Homo sapiens: one gene and its partner. Changing the gene in region 2 together with the main gene of any one other region gives a genetic interaction. Each region holds a gene or a part of one and is shown on either strand. Other genes may lie near its edges. The genes, in order: ARID1A and SEMA4C.

Region 1 (3,810 bases), on a different chromosome or scaffold from region 2:
TCAGGGAGAATGGCAGGAATATGCATGGAGTCACCTCAAAAGCCTTCCGTGGCTTTGCTTCTCATGCCAGTTATGTGGCAGTATGCACGTGTCTTATTTTGTTTTGTTTTCCTTTGTGGGGGAGGGGAATAAAGCCTGAAGGGAGAAGGAATTCATAACTGACTGTTGGCTGGCTTCATTCCAACCACTTTCTTTTCTGCTGGTGACAGCTGTTTTCCTCTTCTGATTTAGAAGGTTTGGAATAAATCCCTCCCTGCCACACCTCCCCGAGCTCAGCCACAAACTGATCCAACAGCAGGCTTCTGGTCTGGTGACTACAGAACATACACAGGAGGGAAGTCTGCAAGGCACAGTCTGCTGTCTGTCTGTGCTGCCTCACCTGTTTGCTTCCTGGGCTGAGTCTACAAAATTGTAAGGTATCAGAGTAGGCACAAGCTCTGGGTGGTGTCCAATTCAGGTTTTCATTTAAGTTTCCCATACAGAATAACTAAACACATAATTTCCTACTACTTCTTCCTTTATTATAAACTATTTCTACTAAGCAGTTCCTGAAATCCTATCTCTACTGGGAAGCTTCCAGGAATGGGAAGATCTACTTCTACTCTGGCTGCCTCTGTACCATCTTGCAGGCCGATTTATGTGGCAGAAACCTTGCTGAAAGCCAAAGTTATTTCTAACTTTTGACAGTCTAGTGGGTTATATACTGTTACATACTGTTTGTATTTTACAAATAATGAAATTAAGGTTCAGAGTGGTTACACACCTTAAGGTCATATATGTTATAAGTGGCCAAGAAGGGATTCAAAACCAGGTCCATCTCTCCAAATCCTGTCTTTGCTACTATGCCAAATTGCCTCCCATGGAATCAGAATGCCCACAGACTTTCCCTAGCTTTACACCTCAGTGGGACCATAGATACACGGTAAACTTACTGCTAATACCTCATACTACCAGGGAGGTCTCTGCTTCCTGCCTTATCTTCTGGGAAACCTGTGCTCCCCGGTCTATCAATATTAGACTCAGAAAGCGGGAGAGGGGATGATGTCCCTGTGGGATGCATGGTACCACATGAAGCCAGTGAGTACCTAGAAAGGGGTTTGTGGAAACCACAGGGGCAGTCAAGTGTCAGGCGCCCACTCACCTGAGTCAATCCACCAATCTCCTTCACAGACACATAGAGGCGATAGAGGTCCAGAGGTTTCCTACCCACAGCAGGCAGATTTGTCATGCCCATGGCCTTCTCCTCAGTGAAGGCCAGATAACGGTCCACCCACATCTTCCTCTCAGGCTCACCACCCAGCTCATACAACTTGGTGATCTTCTCATTGGTTGTAGTAGAAGAACTGGATTTCTGGAAGGTTCAGGTCAAAATTCATAGGAATGGGTCAGATTCAAAGCCTGTGCTAAGGGTCTCAGAAGTCTCTTGACTGGAGCAGTGTTAAAGCTTCTTACTCTGGGGTGGTTACTAACACCTGTCCTACCTTCATAAGGTTGAAGGGCCAAAAGAGAACCAAATTTTTTTTTCCTATAAAGGAAGGAAGCTAACACTAAATATATGTTATGTACTGGGTGCTGTGCTAGATGCCTTTATATATTAGGTATTATAAAATTATCCCCATTTGTAAAGATAAGGAAGCAGGCACCAGGAGGCAAAGCCTAAGATCTCACAGCTTTTAAGTGGCAGGCTGAGTATCAAATCCTTGTCCACCTGACATCAAAGCCACTACTGCTCCCACACTACTACCCAGGAGCCTGAACATACTTAGGTACTATGTTTTAGAGAAATCGAAAAACTCACAACATGATCTTGAGGCAATGGGATGGACTAAAATGAAAAGAAACTCTTTGCCTCTTCTAAACAAAGGAAAGGTTTCCCACCTGGTTGAAGGGCTTTGGATATTATCCTGTACAAGACAGGAACGTGGTCAAAAGGGCTGGGAGCCAGAGGTGAAGACTCACAGGAATTAACAGCTATGATTTTTATTTTCCCTATGTATACAGATAGGGAAAGTGAGGTATGGCCAAGGACAGAAATATTACAAATGACCCAAATGCTGAGTAGGACCCTTTACTACCGCACAGCCTAACAGTACACCCAGGACCAACCTAAGGGAAGCCAAGGACTCAAGCCTCATCTGCCTTATCTCCTTCTTTACAGAACACAGGGTACCATTCCTGCTGCTATGAGTAAGGTTCAGGAAGAGAAGAGCAACTAGTTGCCCATGGCACACCCCATCTATCAATGCTTGAGTATAGGAGGCACGGTTTCACAGAGGGCACCAGCCAAACAGTACAGAGAGTTTGATGCTGCAGTGTCTGGCATTTCCCCCATAACAAACAGCTGTGAGAATATTATGTTATTTACCAGGATCCCTTAGACCAACCCAGACCCAACTCACTGAGCTATTATTCTGGGACCTTTCATGATAAGAGGAGGCAACAGCAGCTTTTTCAGAGACTATCTAGTCCGGTGTCATAAAAGGCTGGGATCTTGTCACTCTCTTTTCTTTTTCCTTCCTATCACTGAAAAAGATAGGACACAAAGTTGAAAGGAGTCAAGACAAAAATCACTACCTTGGATTTGGATTCTGTCTTGGGTGTCCCATCTGCCTTGTTGTTCATTTTGGTGGCTGGAGTTAACTTTACATCCCCAAGGCCCATCATCTCTGGGCTGGCTGCCATCCCTGTAAAAGAGAAAAAAATTCTCAAGTCCAGTAAGTTTAGCTGTGATGTGACTCTTGAAGAAATCCCTAGTGAGAATGACTAGCACTTACCTGCAGAATTGTTGGCCATGGTTCCACCCATGGAATATGGGGGTCCCTGAGGGTTGATCATGCCAGCCATACTATTAATCCCTTGTCCATAAGGAGGTCCAGTTCCCATCATGCCCCCTTGATTCATATTGGGGTAGCCTGGCGGCCTAAGGAAGAAGATGGAAAGTGAGAGAGACAAAGGTTAGACTCTGAGCTTTTAGATTTGAACTGGAGCCAAATAGTGCTGTGTGATCATCTAGTAAGGATTAAAAGGAAAACATTTATGGGTCCCCAAAACTAGAACTATGCAACATCCAGATATTATTTTTCTTTAATTTATTTTCTTGAGACAGGGTATTGCTCTGGCACCCTGGCTGGAATGCAGTGGTGTGATCATAGCTTACTGCAGCCTTAATCTCCTGAGCTCAAACAATCTGCCTTCCTCAGCCTCCTGAGTGCCTAAGACTATGAGGCATGCACCACCATGTCCAGCTAACACCCAGATTTTCTTTTTTTTTTTTTTGAGACAGAGTTTCACTCTTGTTGCCCAGGCTGGAGTGCAATGGTGAAATCTCGGCTCACTGCAATCTCAGCCTCCCAGGTTCAAGCAATTCTCCTTTCTCAGCCTCCCAAATAGCTGGGATTACAGGCATGTACCACCACACCCGGCTAATGTTGTATTTTTAGTAGAGATGGGCTTTCTCCATGTTGGTCAGGCTGGTCTCGAACTCCTGACTTCAGGTGATCCACCTGCCTCGGCTTCCCAAAATGCTGGAATTACAGGCATGAGCCACCGAGCCCGGCCAACACCCAGATTTTCTTATCTTCTACCTCCCACGAAAGATACTAAGAGAGTTCAAGCTCTAGATAGCAAACAATAGTTCAATTTTTTTTTTTTTTGAGATGGAGTCTCGCTCTGTTGCCCAGGCTGGAGAGCAGTGGCGCGATCTCAGCTCACTGCAAGCTCCGCCTCCCGGGTTCACGCCATTCTCCTGCCTCAGCCTCCCAAGTAGCTGGGACTACAGGCACCTGCCACCACGCCCGGCTAATTTTTTGT
Region 2 (3,810 bases):
GGCATGGTCAGGGAAGAGGCCAGAGCCAGAACCACAGCACAGCTTGGAGGGTCTGAAAGAAACATGGGAGCAGTTGCCAAGGCTTGATGCTGGGAGCGCAGCCCCGTGACCTGGCTATATATAATGGCCCTGTGCAGTGCAGATTCCATTCTGTTTTCATTCTCGTTTCCAGGAACCCACCCCAAGTTAGGCAAGGTGTGCATCCACATGTGTGTGTGTTCCTAACTCTGCACTGGCCAAGCACATAGGCCCAACTGGGAGAAGCAGCCAGATGGAGAGAGTGAGATGGGATAGTGCTGGGGACAGTGGCAGATAGGGCCCAACTTACTACCTTGCTCTGAGATAGCACCAGGCTTCTCATGGGCTCCTGGTCAAACAGCTGCAGCTCCTCAATCAGGTGAACCCAGGGCCCCAGGCTCACAGCCTTGAGCAGCCAGCCGTCTCCTGGGGGGTGCAGAGGAGAAGGTGTAAATGAGAGGGCACAAGGCCGTGGGGCAGCTCCAAATCTCCCTGCCCTGGGCACACGGGCTTCTGCCCAGCCTTGAGCAGCCATGCCTGCATACCCATGCACCCACCTGTGCCAATGAACAGCACTGTATAGGTGGCTCCATCAAGTCCTGTAACCCGGTCGGCCACCAGGTGGGTGAAGTTGGTGCCCTTCTTCACGAGCAGGGGGCGGCTCCACCGAGGCCCCACCTGCTCCTCCATCAGCGGGTGCTTCTTGACGAAGTTGAGGATGTTGTCGGGTAGCTCCAGGGAGCTGGTGTAGCCGTGGCGCCGATGCCAGTTGTTAATGCACTGGGGGCAGGGTGTGGGGGGCAGGCCATCAGCAGGGTGGGATGGCACCGCAGCTGGGTGGGGAGATGCATCCCTGCCCTAGCACTCACCGAGCCAGGCCGAGGGCTGGGTACAGGGTCAGTGTAGCGGTCCCACTTCTGGGCTTCCTCATGGTACTCCTTATAGGGGCCCTCAAACACCCGCTGGATCTCTTCCAACTGGTACTCACAGATGGCCGACAGGTACATGTCACCCCTGTCACAGCGAGAGGGAGCCCAGGGTCAGGTACCCACCTTATCTCTTCCCACCCCAGCTAAGGGCAAGCAGCAGGAAGGCAGGGCCTGGCACAAACTGGCCATGGGTACCAGAATGCCCTGGCAGCTCAAGTGCCACCTGGCATGGGGCCCTGCCCCTTCACAGGCAGCTCTGAAAGGGGCAGGTGCCAGCATTCTCCTTGGCTTCTGGACACCTGGCTTCCGGGACTGCCTCTGAGGCCTGGTCCAGGCTCCCACCCATGCACCGTCCCTGACCTGAACCCCAGCTCCTCCCCACTCTGTGGGAGCCCTGGCCAACTCACCACTGTGCTTGAAAAACCCCAAAGAAGGTGGTGTTGTGCCAGGAGGTGTCCTGCAGGGTGTGCATCGCCTGCAGCTGGTTGAAGTAGAGCTGCCAGTTCGGGGCAGAGCATGCCAGCCGCGCCTTCAGGAACGTGGTCCACTTCCTCTGCAGGGTCCGTGCGCCCCCCATATCGCCCTGGCAGACGGCAAGGGGACACTGCCGGTCAGCCCCGCTGGGCCAGCAGGGCTCCCAGGGCCCACCGCTGTGAGACTCGGTACCTTGCAGACACGGGCCACACGAGCCACCACCTGCTCGGCATAGCAGTCGGACTCCACTGCCCGCTCCCTGAAGAAGAAGTAGACCTTGTCGTCGTCCCCCGTGAAGCTGCCCACACTCTCAGGTACATAGGCAGAGCCTACAAAGTGAGGTTCTGTGGGAAGGGGAGGAGGTCAGCAGGGAGGGGCTGGGCCCCGGGGGACCTCCCACCCATGGCTCCCACAGGCCCCCCGGTGGCTCACCGTTGAGCCAAAAGGCCAGGTACTCTGTCTTCATGGAGTGGTGGGGCCCCATGTTACGCAGGATAATGGGTTCCGTGCCCAGGAAGTTGTTGAGTGTGGCCGAGTACAGCTCACCATCTATGGGAGACAGAGGTCAGCTAGGCCACACATGAGGTATGGACACATCCGGCCAACACAGACCCAAGTGGAACCAAGCCCCAAGGACTCACCCAGCCTGCATGGGGGGCAGCCACTCACCCACAAGAAGGCCAGCATGGCCCTTAGCTGGGTCATAGGGACACTTGCCCTTCCCATCTTCAAACTCTCCATGCTCCAAAGTGAAGGTGAGCATGTTCTAAGGACAGAGAGAGAGGTGATGAGGAGATGCTTAAGGGCAGGGCTCTGTGGGCCACATCCACGAGTCCAGAGAAGGGTGAGGAGGGCGGGGGGCTGGGGACACCGAGGTAGGAGGGCAGCACTCACGACGTAGGTGCACTTGGGCTGGAAGGCGTAGGTGCCACAGACGTACAGGTGGGAGGCATTGTAGGGCTGCAGGAAGCGGATGAAGTTGAAGCACTCGGTCTGGGGGCAGAAAGGTGTCCGGTTAGTGAGAGCGCGAGGGCCAGAATGGGAGGAGACGTCCTGGGGTGAAGGCAGCACCAGGAGCAGCGTCCAAGCACCCACCTGGTTGTTCTTCCCTTTCTGGATACACTCAGTCTTCTTCTCCACGGGGGCCTCCCAGGAGATCTGGGGAAAGGGAAGGGGATGTCAGCCACGTTACAGGTACGGACTGAGCACGTGTCACAAGCACAGCCTGCAGCAGCAACACAGGGACGCCCAGTGCAGAGGCATGGTCCCTATTCTCTGGGGACTTCCTTTAGTACAGAATGGAAGCCCCAAACCACCCCACTACACAGAATTCAGTAAGTGCCAGAGAGGAGAGGAATGCCGCATGCTGACCCCAACCAGAGGGCAGGCCCCGGATGCCCAGCAGCACTTCTGTGGGGGCAGCCAGGCTGAGGGACCACCTAGCCAAGCACAGCCCCTCTGGGCCTTGCCCTCTGGCAGGCCCGACTGCCTCCCACTGCCCCACCTCTCACCGCTCCTTGCAGCTCCAGGGCCTCCATGCTGAAGGCAAACAGGGCCTCTCGGGCGCCCACGTACAGAAGCCCAGTGGGCTCCGTCAGCGTCAGTGTCAGGAAGTCCTGGATGCCGGTCTGGGAGAACCGCCGTACTACCGTGGCCAGCTCTGCAGGGGTAAGCATGGCTGCTGATGGGCAGGACCCCTGGGGCTCGACAGCCCTCAGTCTTGCTCCACGAGAGCCAGCACCCCATGCCACAAGCAGATGCCAGCCAAACCCCCTGATTGGCAATAAAGGACACTTTTGAAACAGCCTTTGGCCCTGACAGCCCCACCTGGGCCTCCCTAGCCTTTCCCAGCCTGGGAGGAGGCAAATCCAGGCTGCTGGGAGGAAGGAAGGATATCTCAGCCACAGCTTCCGGCCAGAGGAAGCCATCAGACTGATGGCTCTTGCTCTCAGGGTCAATGGCACCTCCGGCCGCAGGGCTGGGCACCCCCACCCCACCTTCGCTTCCTCGGCGGCTGCTTCCTTCTTTGCCCTGCTGCCCACTGCCTCTATCAGAGTCCAGCAGAGCAGGAGGCACAGACGGCTATGAGTACTCCCTGCCTCAGGAAACCCTTCACTCCAGCAGGACCCCAATCCAGGCTGCCAGAGATGCGAGCACAGCAGGCCACTAGGACAGGTGGGGATGGCAGGAGGGGAGCTGGGCTGTGAGCCAGGCCAGGGAGGTCCGGAGAAACCAGAGGCTCAGAGAGCGGAGATGGGGCTGGGGCCTGGGAAGTCTTGCTGCCACCCGGCATGCAGGGCACTACGACATTTATACAGTCACGTGATTCCTACATCAGCTGCCAAATATGGCTGCCGACCTGTCCTCAGGGTCCCCCCAAACCAGCCTT

What was found.
Region 1: changes in SEMA4C (region 2) and ARID1A together harm fitness more than expected from each alone (negative genetic interaction), as found in Homo sapiens cells (one large-scale study listed by BioGRID).

What each region holds. Positions count from the first base shown.
Region 1 is NC_000001.11:26,765,331-26,769,140, reverse strand, and holds part of ARID1A (AT-rich interactive domain-containing protein 1A), read right to left. Parts: intron 2,921-3,810; coding exon 2,775-2,920; intron 2,685-2,774; coding exon 2,575-2,684; intron 1,352-2,574; coding exon 1,142-1,351; intron 1-1,141. UniProt on the Homo sapiens protein: Involved in transcriptional activation and repression of select genes by chromatin remodeling (alteration of DNA-nucleosome topology).
Region 2 is NC_000002.12:96,863,351-96,867,160, forward strand, and holds part of SEMA4C (semaphorin-4C precursor), read right to left. Parts: intron 3,082-3,810; coding exon 2,933-3,081; intron 2,580-2,932; coding exon 2,517-2,579; intron 2,415-2,516; coding exon 2,316-2,414; intron 2,188-2,315; coding exon 2,091-2,187; intron 1,971-2,090; coding exon 1,854-1,970; intron 1,766-1,853; coding exon 1,614-1,765; intron 1,531-1,613; coding exon 1,355-1,530; intron 1,033-1,354; coding exon 888-1,032; intron 799-887; coding exon 576-798; intron 445-575; coding exon 332-444; intron 53-331; coding exon of another isoform or gene 8-52; exon of another isoform or gene 1-7.